Linked DNA regions of Homo sapiens: all the other regions are linked to region 3. The links come from fine-mapping of genetic effects on gene expression. A gene starts in region 3. Each other region holds a variant in brackets. All regions are shown on one strand. Distances are between the middles of the regions. Region 1 overlaps LRMDA (leucine rich melanocyte differentiation associated). Region 2 overlaps LRMDA (leucine rich melanocyte differentiation associated). Region 3 holds the start of ZNF503 (zinc finger protein 503). Region 4 overlaps ZNF503-AS1 (ZNF503 antisense RNA 1).

What was found. PIP is the estimated chance that this variant, and not a neighbour inherited with it, causes the effect.
Region 1: its variant is the best candidate, but not a certain one, in a credible set for the expression of ZNF503 in whole blood (INTERVAL, PIP 0.69).
Region 2: its variant is the best candidate, but not a certain one, in a credible set for the expression of ZNF503 in whole blood (TOPMed, PIP 0.55).
Region 4: its variant is the best candidate, but not a certain one, in a credible set for the expression of ZNF503 in whole blood (INTERVAL, PIP 0.72).

Annotation. Positions count from the first base shown.
Region 1 is chr10:75,974,889-75,979,561 of GRCh38, reverse strand. All of the region lies in intron 2 of LRMDA (leucine rich melanocyte differentiation associated), which reads right to left. Among named protein-coding and RNA genes, the nearest start is that of MIR606, 420 kb to the right of the region's middle. The variant T/G (reference allele first, on the strand shown) is at 2,012.
Region 2 is chr10:75,455,722-75,460,394 of GRCh38, reverse strand. All of the region lies in intron 2 of LRMDA (leucine rich melanocyte differentiation associated), which reads right to left. Among named protein-coding and RNA genes, the nearest start is that of LRMDA, 26 kb to the right of the region's middle. The variant AG/G (reference allele first, on the strand shown) is at 2,505.
Region 3 is chr10:75,399,090-75,403,762 of GRCh38, reverse strand. It overlaps ZNF503 (zinc finger protein 503), which reads left to right and starts at 1,999. Exons shown (of 2, transcript NM_032772.6): 1 at 1,999-2,658; 2 at 3,389-4,673. The coding sequence starts at 2,344. ZNF503-AS2 (ZNF503 antisense RNA 2) reads right to left here and starts at 2,235. Exons shown (of 2, transcript NR_024421.1): 1 at 1,502-2,235. RefSeq lists an enhancer at 2,497-2,997.
Region 4 is chr10:75,335,963-75,340,635 of GRCh38, reverse strand. All of the region lies in intron 2 of ZNF503-AS1 (ZNF503 antisense RNA 1), which reads right to left. It also overlaps a transcript of ZNF503 not described here. Among named protein-coding and RNA genes, the nearest start is that of ZNF503-AS1, 42 kb to the right of the region's middle. The variant CAGGTATCT/T (reference allele first, on the strand shown) is at 2,272.

The sequences.
Region 1 (4,673 bases), 580 kb before region 3:
AACCCTATCCTAGACTAAGTTTCTCCATCTATAGAATAAAAAGAACACTTAGCTTACAGCACTGGAAAAATTAAAAGTAATATATTTAAAGCATACCCCATGGTACCTGGCACCATGTTCAATAAACTCTAATCAATGTTATTATCATATATGGAGCCACTTTAAACATAAAGCACTAGTTTTAATTGTTAATAAAGTCATTATTTATAGCTGTGTCTAAGACTCTCCTGATTAACTGCCAATCTCACTCCTCTAAGCCAGTGTTTCCCTAATTTCAGTCACGCATGTACCACCCTTGTAATTTCTGCTCTATTCAAATGTCATCTATTGTAATCATTATTATTAATAATAGCAGTAATATAAGCCATAATAATAACAATAACAACAGAAATAATAACAATAAGAACAATGACTAATGTTCACGGGCTACTCATCACATGCCTGGCACTATTCTTAGAGCTTTATAAGTACTAACCCATTTGGTCCTTATCACAACTCTGTGAGATGGGTACTATTATTAATGCCATTTTACAGATAAGCAAAGTGATGCATGGAAAGTCCAAGGTCATTTGGCCAATAAGTGGCAGGTTACAGATTCAAACTCAGGCCCCAGGACCCACATTTAGCCACTGCACAGATTGCCTGGCTCATCTCTATATGCCGGCATTTACTTAATTTTTTAAACATTGATGCAGTTAAATTTAGACTTAAAGAAAAACATTATAACATTGTATCACACTGTAGGAGATCTGTGAAATCCTGGGTTTGATATGTAATTATAATATGGTTGCATACAAAAAATTATAAGATTATTCAAATAAAAAATGTATTTGTGCCACCTAAAATCATCTAGGAAACAAAATTTAATACTGCTTTATGTACCTGGGAATTCCTTCAACCTCAAGTCACAAAACCACAGGACAATACTGGAAACTCACTGATAGTTCACTGCGTCCACACCCATTCTCCACCTCCTGCTTTGTAACAGAACCTGGATTTTTATTTGGCATGTGGCTGCCAAGCTAAACGATTCCATTTTCCTTTCAGCTAGCTGTGGCTCTGTGACTAAACTCTGGCCAATGAGATGTCAAAGAATGTCTTACGTGGGACTTGCTGGAAGTTTCCTTAAGAGGTAATGAGACTCCTGTTTGTTCCTTCCTCCTCCCTGCTTCTTGAGGGAGGAATGCGCACAGAATGACAAGAGCACAAGCTGCCATCTTGAATCATGAGAAAATATGCTAAGAATGTCAGAGCTACAAAGAGAGGGAACCAGGGTTCCTCATGACACCATGAAATTATCACACCAGCCCTGCAATACTTCCATACTCCTTTTATGTGAGAGAAATAAATCTCTACAATGCTAAGTCACTGTTAACTTGAGCTCTTCTGCTACATGCAGCTAAGCCTCATTCTAATGAACACACCATCCATCCCTTGCTCCAGTGCCCTCCATCTCCAACCAGGAATAACTCACTGAGAGGATCTGTCCCCTAAGTTGTAGCCAATGAACTGAATAGCCCTGGGACAATCAGCATGCCATTTATGTGTCCATTTATAAACCACTCTCCTCCAAACGCTTTATATGCAGTATTCCATTTAATTCCCCCAACAAACTTACAAGACAGGGACCATTATGACCATTATCTCCACAGATGCGGAAACTGAGGCACAGAGAGGTTAAGTACCTTGTCCAAGGTCACACGACTAATAAGTGGCAGAGCCAGAACTCAACCCGACAGTGTGACACCAGAAGATGAGTTCTCAACCCTGAGGCTCTCTACCTGAAATGAAACAGGCATCAGACCTGGACCCTCAGAGGGACTGGCTTCTTCGAAGCTCAAAGGGCTTCACCATCATAGGCCGTGGGCAGCTCCCCAAAGGCTAAAGTGACTTTAGCCTCTCTAGAGATCACCCTGGGGGCCCTAGCAAATGCTTTCTGTCATCCTATTAACACTACTTTCTAATTAGGACCAGTGCAAACCTGATACTTAGGCAGAAATGTCTGTTTATT[T/G]ATTTATTTTGCGTGTGGAAAAAAATATTAAAAAGATGTCCAAAAAGAAGATTCAGAAAATCTTTGCTCCTGCCCCTCAGGAATTCGACTCAGCTCCCCAGATGCCCTGGACAGAGGGGGACGTGTGGCCCCCAACAGTCACCATGGAGTTAACTCATATTTCCCAGGCCTGGCACATGTTCAGTCAAAAACCTGGCGGAGTGCCTGTTGTTTACTGAAGCTGGGGAAGAAGCATCTGCAACATTACGAAAAGCATATTGTAAAAGGCAACACATGCAAATTAAACCTCTTGAGCTATGAGTAAATTGCTGGGAAAATTTATAACTCATTTAATAAAACTTGAAGTAAATACATAGTCTGGCTCCCAGGGAAAACAAAATATTTCCCACAATTCTCTTCTCTTTAAAAAAGGAAAAAAAAAAAAAAGGGAAGAAAAGAACCATCGAGCTAGAGGGCTCTATCTAGTATAAAGTATAAATAGCAAATGTGGTGTGAGCAGACCCCATTTACGGTTATGGGGCATTTCATACCCACGTAGACAGTGCCATGCCCTCTGCTCTTGGAGGTTGACAATGTTCAGGCCTAAGACATTTCCACAATAATCCATGATTGTGTTTACCCAACAAAGCTCTACTGAGCATCTTCTATTCATTAATTCACCCAACAAGGGTTTATTCAGTATCTACTAGAGAGGCATTGTAATGTGGCGATTAGGAACACATGCTCTGGAGCCTTGAATCCAGACTCTGCCACTTACTAGCTGTATGCCCTTGAGCTACTGCATTCATAAACCCTCCATACCTCAGTTTCCTCATCAGTAAAATGGGAATAATAATAATATCCACATCCTGTGGTCATTGTAAACACTAAATGGCTTAATATATGTGAAGGGCTTGGGACAATGCCTGGCAAATAGTAATACTTTGACAAATATTAACTGCTTATTAGTTATTAGCTGGCATTATGGTTCAGCCCCTCTGCCAGGTGCAGGGGGCATAGGATTGAAAGAACAAGGTAGGTGAAGGCCCTGGCTCATGGAGTTTATACTCTACTGGGGGTAGACAGACAATACACATTTAGGCAAATGAATAAACAGCACTTGTGAAGATAATAATACGTGATCTGAAGAAAACAAAAAAGCAACAGAATAGAGAGAGACTGCCAGTTATAAGTGGGTTATATGAGTGTTCGAGAAGGCAATATTTGAGTTGAGACCTAAAAGATAAGAAGGGACCAACTTAACCAAGAATGTTGTATACAAAAGGAATAGCTTGTTAAAGATTCTAAGATGAATGAACGAATGAATAGGTTTGTTCTTTTTGAGTGACCACACAAGGCCAAGGGGCCTGGCATGTACAGAGTAGAGAGAGTTCTGCAGGGATGAAGTGGGAGACGTTGATAGGACCAGACCAGACCAGGCCTTGTAGGCCATGGAAGGACTTTGGATTTTACACCAAGTGCAACAGGTAACTGCTGGAGGGAATTCAGCAAGAGAGTGACAGGAGCTGATTGACAATTTGAACGCCCACTCTGGCTGCCATGTGGCAAATAGATTGTAGGAAGAAAAGAAGAAAAGGAAGAGAGCAGTTTGGAAGCTACTACTGTTGTCCCAGAAATATGTAATGGTGGCTTGGCCCAGGGTGGTGGTGGAAGAGATTCAGGAAACATTTTAGAATTAGAGCTGACAGGACTCTGTGATGAATTGGAAACGGTGGTGAAGGAAAGAAAGAAAGAAAAAATGACTCTGATTTTGGAGAGGCCTGGGATGCTCATCAGCCTGAGACAGATGCTGTAGAATATTGAGCAGACATGATTTCTATTCTAAAAGAACTTTAGAGATAGTCACAGCAGCCTAATACACACAACATAGAATCAAAGGAAGATGTGACAGAAGTGCCTCTGTGCATCGTTCAGAGTTCAAGGCCCAAAGAAAGGAGAGCATGCCATGGGCAGTTTTCATGGAAGGCCACAGAAAACAGGGTACCCAATCTGTCCTCGAAGGACACAGTCCCTGGCACTCCACAAAGAGTGTCACATGAGCACATGTGTAAAGGAGGAAAGCCCAGAATGGTCCACCCCAAAGAAACAAGGAAAGTCACTCCACAGAGACGATTCCTCTATCCAATTCACTGCTGTTTTACTGAACCATCTCCTGGAGATCTGGTGCTGAAGGGAGAATGGGAGGGAGGTAATGACCTCACTCCTATTGGGTCGTCTTTGTTTCCATCCTTCAGAAAAAAATCAGGAAGTCCTGGGAAACAACCATCAGTGTAGAGGCACTCAGGCAAGTTGGGCAGTAGGACAGTGGCTTAGAGCCCAGGGCCTTCAGCCCCCTAGAGCTGCGTGACCTAGACAAGTTACTTCTCCAGTCCTCAGTGTCTACAGAATGGGATAATTATGGTACAGCATCTACCATGCAGGATTCAGTAAAATAACTCCGTCCCAAAGGACTTAGTACAATGCCTGACCTAAGATGAAAGTTACCAGTAGTTTTTATTTAAAGAAATGCTGGTCCTTCCATAGCATCTGTAGATCATCTGTCATAGCTTGTACATACTTGGTGGTCATCGCTCATTAAAGCATCCATCTTCCTCATTGGTTTTTAAATACACAAGTGAACTTTTTGGGGATTGTGCATCATTATTATCAGCAGCTAATACAG
Region 2 (4,673 bases), 57 kb before region 3:
TTTCAGAGTTTCTCCAAATGATTCATTTGAATTTAACTTTTAAATTATTTTAACTATTTAAAAAACATAATTCAAAAGGCAGTATGTACTCCCAAAGACATACTACACCAAATTTTAACACACTAGAAGATACTGGTATATTAACTTACGCAATCACATTAACTCACTTTTCAAAATACAGCTTCTTCTTACAATTATTTAAACAATAATCTGATATTACAGGATGAACTTTAAGGGGAAAATAAATGTCACTATTTGCAAATACTTAACTGAGTGTATTGACATTTAAATATTGCACACTCAAACCCAAATACAAGAATAATCTGAATGCTGGGGCCAGTATAAAACTGCATTTTGTCTCTAACCTTAATACCAAACCCAGTGCTATGGTTTGAATGTGTTCCCCAAAGTTCATGTATTGGAAACTTAATCCCCAATGCAACAGTGTTAGGAGGTGGAGCCTAATACGAGGCATTTATTAATAAGAGTGATGAGGACTCCACCTTCATGAATGGAGCAATGCAGATTATAAAAGGGCTTGAGGCTGCAAGTTCAATCACTTGCTCTCTTGCCCTTGCACTTCCACCATGCGATGATGTAGCAAGAAGGCCCTCATCAGATGCAGCCCCTAGATCTTGGACTTCCCAACTTCCAGAACCATAAGCCAGTACATTTCTGTTCATTATAAATGGCCCAATCTCAGGTATACTGTCTAGCAACACAAAATGAACTGAGACACCCAGTGTTCATCTGAATAGTTTCACTGTTTTTGCTGAGCTTAAAAAATATATATATTTGTATTCCATAATGGGCTTTCTATAATTTGTTTGACAAGGATTCTGCTGCTAGAAAAATAACTTTGAAAAACCACTGGATTAAACCAACCTAAGGTCCTTTGGAAGCGTGTGCTTTTGTGCAGCATAGCATAGGGGATCCCAGGAGAAGTTGAGCACTGTGATAAAGAGGTATGGTTGAGGCCTCCCTTTCATGATGCTATGGCACAATCATGGCTCACTGCAGAATTCAAAACTCCTGGGCTCAAGCAATCCTCCCACCTCAGCCTCCCAAGTAGCTGGGACTATAAGTGTGTGCCACCATGCCTGGCTAATTTTTAAATTTTTTGTAGGGACAAGATCTTACTATGTTCAGCCCAGGCAGGTCTCAAACTCTTGGCCTCAAGTGAGCCTCAGCCTCTCAAAGTACTGGAATTACAGGCATGAACTACTGCACCTAGCCAATCTGACTAGTTAACACTCTAAAAGCAGCGGGTTTTTTTTCCTAATATTAAATCAATTTCAAATTTCCACATTCCATCTTGCTGCGTACTGCCTGTGATTTTTACAATCATCTTCTGTAAAGAGGTTCTAACAAGTCCTTAAAAGAAAAAAAAAAAATCTAAAGCAGACCCTGAAGTTACAACTGAACCATTCAATTCAAGGTAGATCAGAAATTGCATAAAATGAAAACTTTTAGTAAAGACAAAAAAATCAGATGGGAGTTTTTTTTATGGTTGTAAAAATAGCCGCTTGCTCCTTGCAAGGTCTATGATCTTCCTTTTGATACTACATGAACCAGGAAGATAACTGTTCTCAAGCCCAAGGCAGGAAGAGTAAATTTAGTTCCTCCTGCTACCTGACGGAAAGCTTGTCCCATCAGGTACAGTCTGTGGAAGAGCAAATTGGGGAAGGGTGGGGTGCATCTATGTTGAAACTGCTGTAGAGGGTTAGGTGATAAAATTCTTCTCTGAGCTCAGAGGTACAACTAGATAAAAATCATGCCTCAAAATTGTTAAGTAAGATATGGAATTTTACTCTGACGTTTGGCTTTCTTAAAATCTTACTATAATGACATACCTTATTTAGTATTCTATCACTGCTAATAATCATCATGTTTATTTTGTTCTAATGAAGATTCTGCTTCCTCCCTCTTCCCTTTTAAAACATAATTGAATTGGAAAATGTTATACTCTCAGTTGTCCTTGCCCAAGGGAAACCTGGCCATTCAGACCCAAGTCCATAACTTTGCAATCTACAGTCTGGCAGGAAGTAGACCCCCCACAGAGCCCTAACTTTGCAAAACCAAACCTATAAACAACCAATGCCATAGGACCCCAAGCAAAATAATCTTAAAGATAAACCTGCTCAAAGTCAAAAGAATCAAAAATGAAATAAACTACTTTTGGGATATCTACTCTTTCAGTATATCTTCTACAGGAACAAAACTCTTTTACATTTAGTATTTCATTTGGTCTTCACAACTCCTTCTATCTCCCATTTGGAGAATGACAACAGAGATTAAATGACCTACTCAATATTTCACAGACGATTTGTGATGGAACAAAGACAAATACTCAATACTCAATACTCAGGCATCCTGTGTCTTAATGATCTCCTTGATTTTCTACTAGATCATCCTCCAGCCAGAAATACCCCAGCTTCTTGGTCTCCAACAATGACTCTGAGCTTCAAACTAGCAAGAGTTCAGTTTCTCAATTAAAAGTAAAA[AG/G]AAAAAATGGCAGTAATGCATTAGAGTTATGTAGTGTTAGTGATTTAAAGTGCATTTGCATTCAAATCACCTCTTTCCCCTGGAACCCAGAAACACTCTGAGGAGTGAGAAAAGAGGACAATATTCTTTGCCTGTAACTGATGGAAAATGCCGTCCAGATAAACGGCAGCAGCAAGAGGACTAAAACATATCTGAGATAGAACCAAAAACTGGTGGTCCATAAAGGAACAGGACAATAAAACTTAACCTAATTTTCTATAGACTTTCAAAACACTATTATTTAATGTACAGCCTCAGTGCCTACAGTTTTATCTCCTCCTGAAAAAATGATAAGGTGAAATATAAGTTTGGGAAGAAAATAAAACAACAGCAGCCTTAGTTGTCTCCCCCGCAACTCCTGTCACTCCAGGGAGAAGGTTTGATGGGAGAACCCATACCTCGAGTCCTTACTTGGCTGTCCTCCCTGAAAGACTCTGGCATGGCCAACTTCTACATCCCAGAATCACCACTACGCTGTAGGGGTTGTCCCCTTTTCATGAGCCTGGAAGACAATTTTCCTCTTCTCAGTCAACCTATACTAGTTTGCCAGATAAAGATCTTAGGACAACAATGAATTTGAATTAGGGGAAACATGCATCAAATAGAATACAGTATAGGAGCTAACAGTCGACTTTGTAGTCAGGCAAAGCTGCATTTAGATCTTGGTCCCCCCACTGACCAGCTGCATGCCCTTGGGAAAGCCTTTTAACCTCTGCACATTTTTGTTCTCTGTCTTTAAGCTGGAAAGAACACCTTGCTTGCCATAAAGATTCAAGAAGGTCATCAGGGAAAACTGATAGATGAATGGGAGTCACCAGTACCATTACCTCTTCTAGAATAAGCAATTACCATGTTTTTTTTAAAATCCATTTTACCGCCACGTGAGGTGACTCATGCCTATAATCCTGGCACTTTGGGAGGCCAAGGCAGGTGGATTGCCTGAGGTCAGGAATTCGAGACCGGCCTGGCCAAAATGGTGAAACCCTGACTCTCCTAAAAATACAAAAATTAGCTGGGAGTGGTGGCACGCACCTGTAATCCCAGCTACTCGGGAGGCTGAGCCAGGAGAATCACTTTAACCTGGGAGGCGGAGGTTGCAGTGAGCCAAGATTGTGCCACAGCACTTCAGCCTGGGCGAAAGAGCAAGCTCTTTTTCAAAAAACAAAATAAAATAAAATAAAATCCATTTTAGCAAAAGAAGAATTCCCAGGTTAGATTGTGTCTTCTGATAGAGGGGCACCTACCTAGTGTGTAACCCTGTCCTGGGCACTTCTGAAAGAGAAGCTGTTATCCCATCCTGGAAAAGCATACATTTCAATGGGAGACAGAGTTTCTGCAAAGGCCCTAAGGCACTCACAGAATCAATAATCTACCAATTCTCCCAGGGAAGAATGTACCCCTAAGTGCTGGCCTTGCAGAAACACTGTGGCATGAAAGAGTGAAAATAAATGCAATTTCTGAAAGATGAGGTTTCAAGTTTTGGTTCCTCCCCTTCTGAACGAGCACAGAGCCAGCCCACAGGGCCTTGCTGGGTGTGAAGAGGCACATGCTTGTGGCAGGAGTCTTGGAAGAACTGCATTAACCGTGACCCTTCTAACAGCGTAATTGCCGCGTATATGTGTCAGGGCCGAAACGCAGGCCCTGCTCAGCCTGGGAATGGGCTGCCCTCCACCCGCTGGAGGTGGCTTGTCTCCCCCGCAACTCCTGTCACTCCAGGGTGAAAATTTGATGGGAGAACCCATACCTTGAGTCCTTACTTGGCTGGCCTCTCTGAAAGACTCTGGCATGGCCAGCTTCTATGTCCCAGAATCACCACTACGCTACACAGCAAAAGGGTTTATGTCTTTGGGTGTGGGAAGAAACTTACCCTGTTCTCCAGTTTCTCTTGTGGATTCCAACCCACCCCTGAGGGCATACAGATCAGGTTCTCACCATTCCTACTCAGGAAAATCCTGGCCCCAAAGCCCTGATGTTGTACAGGCTCCGAAGTCTTAAGGCAGCATGGAAAATCCTGCCCTCCCTCCAGGAGGTGGCTCAGGTCTCAGTTTCTTCATGAAGTTTCTTTTGAAGATGCTCTCCCTTCTGACAACTTCTTGGGCATGAGAACCTCTATTATACTCCTGGCAATT
Region 3 (4,673 bases):
GAAAAGCGGAGGAGGGGAGATTCAAAGTCTTCTAAGTCGTTCCGAGGAAGGGGGTGTGTCCTCCTCCCCACCCCCTCTAATTTCTGCGAGTTCCTGGAGGAGACCCTCGAACCCGCTCCGGACGCTATCAGAGCCCCGATAACTCACGCAGCGCCACAGGCATGCATACACACTGGGCATCCAGGTCCAGGTACCCGGTGGCACGCACAGCGCCTCCCCTTTTCTTCCCAAACAACCCGAGTGACGGTGCAAATCGAGGGGAACGCGGCAGTCCCGCTCCGCTTCCCTGGAAGAACCCGCGTTCCCACAGGCAGCCGCCCCCTCCCTCTCTCGCTCCTTCCCTCGGCTCTCCTAGCGCAGCTCATTCCGACTCGGCGTTCCAATAAATTCGAGAGAGCAGCCCCGAGTTACCCTGGCTCCCCAGCCTGCGGGGATGGCGGCAGGTGGGAGAAGGTCGGGGAGGGGGCATGAGTGAGCCTGAGATGTTTCTTCCCCCATACACCCATGGCCAGGCCTCTTCTTCGCAGCCTCTTAGCCCTGCTTACGACCCGAGGGGGTCAAAGAATTGAGGCGAGGTTTGCCCCACCATTGACCTCCAGGACTAGAAGTTCCTTGGTGGTGTGGCTCTTAGAAGTCTCCGAGTTTGGGGTTAGGGAACTACAGAGGGTGGCAGCCTGACCTCCGCACGCAACACGCCCCGCGAGGACTCGCGGCGGCGGGGTGGGGTGGCGGGAAATCTCCCGTGTTAGAAGTTGCCGCCGCTGGTCTCGGGTACCCGGAGCCGCGCCCGAACTCCGCGACCCCAACAGACCGAGGCTCCCAGAGGTGGAAGGGCGTCTCTCCGACACCGAGAGGGCAGGCGCACACTCCAGGCCTGCGCGCCCCTCTCGGCGCCCTGGGCGCACCTGCGCACTTTACTCTCGCTATTCATTTTCCTGACACCGTGCGCCTCTTTCATTCTTTTTCTTAGAGCCCCCACCCCACCCCCATCCCAGGAGGCCGCTCCTCTTTTCCCCTCCTCCAGTTCCCTCTCAATCTCCTCCTTCCTCTCCGTCTCTCTCTCCCTCTCTCTTTTTCCCTTCAAGTCGCACCCGCCTTGTAATCAGCAACAAAAGCTGACATAAATCACGGGAGGATTGACAAGAGCTGACAAATAACTGATTGATTGCGGTCGAGGAACATTGACAATTGATGGAGGGGTGGAGATGCCCAAAGAAGGGGGGGAGGGAGGAAAACAGGGTGGGAGAGTAAGAATGGGGGGTTGGGGGACAGACTGAGGGTGAAACAGAGGAAACATGTGACCCCCGCTGCTGCCCCAATCTACGCGTCCCCGGGCGTCACGTGGCCGGGAAGGGCGGAGAGCCCAGCGCTCCTCGCGGTGTTGAGCCGCCGCCGCTGCGACTGCCCATCTAGCTTCTGGTTTCTCCGCCGCGGAATCTGAGGAAATTAGAGCGGGCGGGCGGGCTTCTTCCAGCTCCGGCTCCCCACCTTGCCTTCTTACCCTGGTGGCTGCGCTGCGCCGCGCGGGATCTCGATTACTGCGAAGGAAAAAACACTGGGTGTGCAGGTTCCCTTCGCCCCTGGAGTTGACAGTCCGGCCGGTGTCCACACTCCCACCGGTGCTCCTTCTGGACACCCCCCGCAGTCTGTTCCTCACGCGCACCCCCCTTCAAAAGAAGGTTTCAGTTTATTTTCGAGCTGGGGAAAGGAAGAACGACGAGGAGGAAAAAAGAGGGAGGCGGCGGATGGCAAACGTAGAATAAATGTCCATCTCGTCCTCCCAGCGAAATCGAGGGAGGGGACACACAGGGGGGCGGCGAAGAGGGAGCTGCCCATTAAAACCGGCACTGAGAGTCCTGGCAGCGGCGGCGGCGGCGGCGCGGGACGCGTCACATCCCCTTGACCCTCCAATCACCTCGGGCTCCCATTTGATTGGAAGGCGGCAAAGGCTTTAATCTCCCCCTTGGTGCAGCTGCTTTTGAAGTGAGTTTCCTCGCCAGAGCCCCGGCTGGACACGCAGCGGCTCGCATCGCAGAGCGCAGCGCCGGCGCGGGGCCGCGAGAACGCAGCGCAGGGGAGCAGCCCGAGGCGGACACCGCGAGCCGCCCGGCACTCCCGCAGTCCAGCCGGCTCCTCTAGCCCGGCCACGGCTCCGCTGCGGGCCACCCAGGATTACTCGCGTCTGGCTCCAGGCGCCGAGAAGGCGCGCTGGGCGCCCGTGGCCGCCGCGCCAGCTCCTCCTCCTCCCGCTGCTCCTGCTCCCGGGGCGAGCGCGCAGCCCCGAGCCCGCCCCGCGCCTCCCGGAGCCCTCCCCCCCGCTGCTCCCATGCGCGCGGGTGGGTCATGAGCACAGCGCCCTCGCTTTCTGCCCTAAGAAGCAGTAAGCACAGCGGCGGCGGCGGCGGCGGAGGCGGAGGCGGCGGTGCAGACCCTGCCTGGACCAGCGCGCTCTCTGGAAATAGCTCCGGCCCCGGCCCAGGCTCGTCCCCGGCCGGCAGCACCAAGCCTTTTGTGCACGCCGTGCCCCCCTCTGACCCCCTGCGCCAGGCCAACCGCCTGCCAATCAAGGTGCTGAAGATGCTGACGGCACGAACTGGCCACATTTTGCACCCCGAGTACCTGCAGCCCCTGCCTTCCACGCCGGTCAGCCCCATCGAGGTAAGGACCCTCTCTCTGGATCGCACTGGGACCACTACCCTGGCTGCCACCCTAGGGCTTTCTTTTTCTCGGGATCTGGGCGGAGGTGGGGGGGTCGGAGTGATTCAGCTCCCGAATGGGGGAAGAGGCTACTGCTTCCGTACCTCAAAACTAGGGCGGAAAAGGGGGAGGAAGTGGAATGGGGCGTGCATGCTAGGGAGCAAGGCTGCCAATACTTGTTTCTCCTTTCGATATGAAAGCCCCTACCCCGACCCAGGCCCCTTCACTCGGCACCGAAGGCAGGCGGAGGTCTGAAATACGGTTCCAAAGTCGCCGTCCTTCGTATCCGCAGAAGCCAGTGTGTGCACACAGCCTCTGAGGCGCCAGCCGCCCGAGCCCTTACTCTGAAGAATTAAGGAGTGTTTGTGGGGAGGGGGTACAGTTCTGGGTCTAGGAACCGAAAACCAAAACATTTTGCTCTTTAAAAATCTAGTTAGCGCTCAGAGAGGGCAGGAAAGATGCTGCTGGGGGTGGTGGTTGGGCGGGGGGAGCAATCTGCTGCCTTTCCCAACGGCGAGAATGTTTGTGAGTGGGTGTTGAAGAGGGGGTGCCGCCTAGAATTGCGCCTTGGGGCTGGGAGGATCTTCGTGGGCTGTTGCGGAGAGGCATTTGAACCCCAGAAGCCAGGATTCTAAAGGGTTTCCACTTCTTTCTCTGTGTGACGCTCCCCCCCCATCGTCTGACCCCGCAGCTCGATGCCAAGAAGAGCCCGCTGGCGCTGTTGGCGCAAACATGTTCGCAGATCGGGAAGCCCGACCCCTCGCCCTCCTCCAAACTCTCCTCGGTTGCCTCCAACGGGGGCGGCGCGGGCGGTGCCGGCGGCGGTGCTGCGGGCGACAAGGACACCAAATCGGGCCCCCTGAAGCTGAGCGACATCGGCGTGGAGGACAAGTCGAGTTTCAAGCCGTACTCCAAACCCGGCTCGGATAAGAAGGAGCCGGGAGGCGGCGGTGGAGGCGGTGGCGGTGGCGGGGGCGGCGGCGGGGGTGTTTCGTCGGAGAAGTCGGGATTCCGGGTACCGAGCGCCACCTGCCAGCCATTCACGCCCAGGACAGGCAGCCCGAGCTCCAGCGCCTCGGCCTGCTCGCCGGGAGGTATGCTGTCCTCGGCCGGGGGTGCCCCGGAGGGCAAGGACGACAAGAAAGACACCGACGTGGGCGGCGGTGGCAAGGGCACCGGGGGCGCCTCGGCCGAAGGGGGACCCACGGGGCTGGCACACGGCCGGATTAGCTGCGGCGGCGGGATTAATGTGGATGTGAACCAGCATCCGGATGGGGGCCCGGGAGGCAAGGCTCTGGGCTCGGACTGCGGCGGTTCATCGGGCTCCAGCTCCGGCTCCGGCCCCAGCGCGCCCACCTCCTCCTCAGTGTTGGGCTCTGGGCTGGTGGCTCCCGTGTCACCCTACAAGCCGGGCCAGACAGTGTTCCCTCTGCCTCCCGCGGGTATGACCTACCCAGGCAGCCTGGCCGGGGCCTACGCCGGCTACCCGCCCCAGTTCCTGCCACACGGCGTGGCACTTGACCCCACCAAGCCGGGCAGCCTGGTGGGGGCGCAGCTGGCGGCGGCCGCGGCCGGGTCTCTGGGCTGCAGTAAGCCGGCCGGCTCCAGCCCTTTGGCCGGAGCGTCTCCGCCGTCCGTGATGACAGCCAGTTTGTGCCGGGACCCTTACTGCCTCAGCTACCACTGCGCTAGCCACCTGGCAGGGGCGGCGGCCGCCAGCGCTTCTTGCGCACATGATCCGGCTGCTGCGGCTGCGGCGCTGAAGTCCGGATACCCGCTGGTGTACCCCACGCACCCGCTGCACGGTGTGCACTCCTCGCTAACGGCCGCCGCGGCTGCTGGCGCCACACCGCCCTCCCTGGCCGGCCACCCCCTCTACCCCTACGGCTTTATGCTCCCTAACGACCCACTCCCCCACATCTGCAACTGGGTGTCGGCCAACGGGCCGTGCGACAAGCGCTTCGCCACGTCCGAAG
Region 4 (4,673 bases), 63 kb after region 3:
CAAGAGCGAAACTCTGTCTCAAAAAACAAAAAAAAAAGAGACAGCAGCAGTGTCCTTTTCAATAGATGCATGGTATTCTATGAAGTTACCTTCATTTATTATCCAATCTCTAATTGCTGGATATTTTGGTTGTTTTCAGTTGTTCACGATTGTGAACAAAACTATCATGGATATCATTATATGCTGATCTTTGTGCACTTGTCCAACTATTTTCTTAGAACACATTCCTAGAAGTGGAATTGCTGGGATAAAGTATATGAACATTTTTAAGACTTTGATACTGCCCAAATGCCTCAAGAAAGACCAGACAAATTTACACTCCCACCAGTAGAGTTGAAAGTCTTGTTTCACTGCTGTGTGTGTGACTATTATTATTATTGTTGTTATTTTGAGACAGGGTCTCACTATGTTGCCCAGGCTGGAGTGCAGTGGTGTGATCACGGCTCACTGCAGCCTCGACCCCCCGCCCCCTCCCCCCGGCCCCCACCACCAGGCCCCCATTCAGGTGATCCTCCCACCTCAGTGTCCTGAGTAGCTGCGACTACAGGCGCACACCACCACACCAGCTAATTTTTGTATTTTTTGTAGAGATAGGGTTTTGCCGTGTTGCCCAGGCTGGTCTCAAACTCCTGGGCTCAAGTAATCCACTCGCCTTACCTCCCAAAGTGCTGGGATTACAGGCGTGAGCCACTGCGCCCAGTTTATTATTATTATTTTAAATCTATGTCACTTGTTTTCACTCCCTAGTCTAAGCAGAGAGGTGGCCCAGAAAAACATTCTGAACCAGAGAGTCTCACAACCCATTTCCCATGACGAATCAATGGTTGGTTGGCAAAAGACCTATAGGCTATGTCTTCATAACTTAAATAGCATCAAGATGTATAAAACCATCTTCTACCATACCATTCGCCTTTGCCCCCCAATCTACTTTTCCCCCAGGGACTCCGCCTCCTTGGGGCATCACCAAGGCACAGGTGGCTTGGCTCCTCGCTGGCGACACCCACCCGTGTGTTGGCAGAATAGGCACCTATCACTGGGCTCTCTCTTTAGCTCTTGACAAAATATCTCCCCCACCAGCGTGTCACAGCACCTTGAATGTCTACCACTGGTGGCATACAACAAGCAGTTTTCTAAACATTCAGAGGTTATCTCAGGTGACATTTTATGAGCTAATAAGTGTTTTGGAGGCTCTCCCATCTTCTTTCCGAAGCTCCCCTCTCATGTACTGCCAAGTGACCCGGTGCCTTTGGCCATCTGAATGCCTGACTCTAGCCCCCATTTTCCTCTTCTGACGGCCACCTGAAGTCCTTTTTTTTATACATGAGAGAAACATCTTCCTACTCCAAACAGAGCAAGAAGATTTTTTAGAGGGAGGAGATATTTCAACAACTCTTTCTTTTTTTTTGAGACGGAGTCTCGCTCTGTCACCCAGGCTGGAGTGCAATGGCACGATCTCGGCTCACTGCAACCTCCACCTCCCAGGTTCAAGCAATTCTCCTGTCTCAGCCTCTCTAGTAGCTGGGATTACAGGTGTGTACCATAATGTCCGGCTAATTTTTTGTATTTTAGTAGAGACGAGGTTTCACCACCATGTTTCCCAGGCTGGTCTCAAACTCCTGAGCTCAAGCAATCCACCCGCCTCGGCCTCCAAAAGTGCTAGGATTACAGGCATGAGCCACCGTGCCCGGCCTTCAACAACTCTTTCAATAAAGAGAGGGAGGCAAAGAGCGAGAGTGACTTGGGAGGAGGCTTAGGGTAGAGACAGAATAGGAACTATTGCAGCTGCCTCACTCCCTGCAAGATTCTCGAAGCAGGGCACACCGCTGGTGCCCAATCTGTGTGTGTTCCTTCTCCAAAGAATGGATGATTCCCACAGGCATGTCCCTATGGCGACACCTTCCATTATTTCCTTTACTTTCTGTATCCATTTGCTCTCTCTCCAGAAAGTTCCAGATCTCAGGCACCTTCCCAGACTCTCAAAAGTCCCAGGAGAGAGGAGGAGAGGGATGAGGGCCCTGAGCACTGCTGCCACTCCCCAGAGAGGTCAGGGAAACAAGGCCCAGCTCCCCTTACCAGAAATCCCCTCTCCCCTTGGACCAGAAAAGGGTTAATTTTATAATTGCTAACATCAATTAGATCCTTACAATGTTATGGGCCCTCTGTTAAGCACTTTACACACATGATGTCATTTAAATAATATATTTCTCCTTACTTATCTGATGAGAAAGTGAGACTTGTAAAGTTTAAGTGAGAGACTTCAGGATCAGAATC[CAGGTATCT/T]CTTTTTCCAAAGCCAAAGCCTTAAGTACCATCGTCTGTTGTCTTCTACAGTAAGTGTTCCATAAATGCAAGGTGAAAAAAGGAAAAAAGAGAGAGTGAGGGAAAGAGGGCAGAAGGAAACTTTATGTCATTGTAATGCAGGGAATATAGCATCATTTGCCATAAGTAGAAGGTAACATTAACATAAAGACGTTATGATTACAATTTAAAATGTTGGTCTACATGTCATCTAAAGTCACTGTTTCTATTCTTAAGAAACACTGGAACATTTGATCTCTGAGGTCCATTTCTAGCACACAATTCTATAATTTCCAAGGATTAAGTAGCTATTTTCTTAAGATAAACTTCCACGGACCTTGGATGCATGGGTAATAAAATCCTAAGGGCAGATGCTGGGTCTTATTTATCTCTATATTCTCCATAAGCATTTAGTACAACATCTGGCCCAGGGTGAATGTATAGAAGATTAGTTATAAATTCCCTTCCCCTCTCTAGGTATTGGTGTTCCAATCCAAAGAATAAAAGGGCTAGATTAGGTGATCCTGAAGGGTGCTTTTGCTCTGCAAGCCACTGGTCCACTGAACCTAAGTGGTCCTTTCCTTATTGGTTCTCTGGCTTTCTGCTTCATCAGTCCTGTGGTTGGCAAAATTCTAAAGATGGTTCCCCAAGACTCCCATACCCTGGTTATTCAACCAAACACTAATCTAGGTACTGCTGTGGAGAATTTTTTTTTCTTTTGGAGACGGAGTCTAGCTCTTTCACCCAGGCTGGAGGGCAGTGGCACGATCTTGGCTCACTGCAACCTCTGCCTCCTGGGTTCAAGCGATTCTCCTGCCTCAGCCTCCTGAGTAGCTGGGATTACAGGCGCCTGCCACCACCCTAATTTTTGTATTTTTAGTAGAGATGGGGTTTCACCGTGTTGGCCAGGCTGGTCTTGAACTCCTGACCTCGTGATCCGCCCACCTCGACCTCCCAAAGTGCTGGGATTACAAGTGTGAGCCACCGTGCCCCACCGAGAATTTTTTTTTAAGACAGGTTTTCACTTTGTTGCCCATGCTGGAGGGCAGTAGCACGATCTCGGCTCACTGCAACCTTGGCCTCCTGGGCTCAAGCCATCCTCCTACCTTAAGCCAGCCTCCCAAGTAGCTGGGACTACAGGCACGCACCACCACGCCCGACTAATTGTTGTGTTTTTTGTAGAGATGGGGTTTCACCATGTTACCCAGGCTGGTCTCAAACTCCTGGGCTCAAGCAATTCACCTGTCTTGGCCTCCCAAAGTGCTGGGATTACAGGTGTGAGCCACCACACCCTGCCAGAATTTTTCAGATATAATTAAAGACCCAAGTCAGTTGACCTTAAGATAGAGAGATTAGCTGGGTGGGCTTAACCCAGTAAGACAAGCCTTTTAAAAGCAGAGAGTTTTCTCCAGCTGGTAGCAGAAAAATAAGGCAGGAGAATTCAATGCATGGGAATTCTCTGTTGCTGAGATTAAGGGGGCCACATGGAAGGATCTGAGAGTGGCCTCAATAGGCTGAGAGTGACACCCTAGCCAGCAAGAAGATGGGGACCTCAGTCCCACAGTTACCAGGAACTGAATCTGCCAACAACCTGAATGAGGTTGGAAATGGATTCTTCCCCAGAGCCTCCAAGAAGATCCCAGCCTGGCCAACATCTTGATTTTGGCCTTGTGAGATCCAAAACAGAGAAATCAGACAAGCCACCTGGACATCTGACCCACAGAGCTGAGACATAATAAACCGGTGTTGTTTTCAGCTGCTGTGATTGTGGTCATCTGTTATGCAGAAGAAGAAAGTGAGTGCAATTCCCTACCCTATTCCTACCAACCCATGCTCCTTTCCAGAGCTCCCTAACATTTAGCAAATGTGCCTCACTTCTAAGGCAAATAATAATAATAATAACGATGATGATTTGAAAATCAGTTTTGGGAATTTTCAGCTTAGGCTTTTTTTTTTTTTTTGACAATTCTGTATAGGTCTAACAAGGAAGTATTAAATATTGAGTTTCTAATGTGTTTCCAAGTCCTCCATTGGAACATGTAATTTGGACCTAAAATTGTGAATAGACAGGGTGAGTAGAAGCACAGGAAAAGCAGAAGAACAGTTTGCATTGGAGATGCTTAGTAGGTGTAATAGAAGAAGTGAAACTTTGAGGTGGAATAGACTGCAAATTAGCAGACAGACAGGAAGGAGTAGAGATATTCTAGGCCAATAAGGTAGCCCAAAGAAACAGAAGTAGAAATGAGAATGATGTTGGCCAAAGTCAGTTCCTGAGGGCAGGCCAGGTTTCTCCAGTCTTATGATTGGAAACTAGCTACCATGCCATGCTGCCAGTTGATAATGTCAGGGAAATAGATGAAAAGTGTGTTTCTAGTG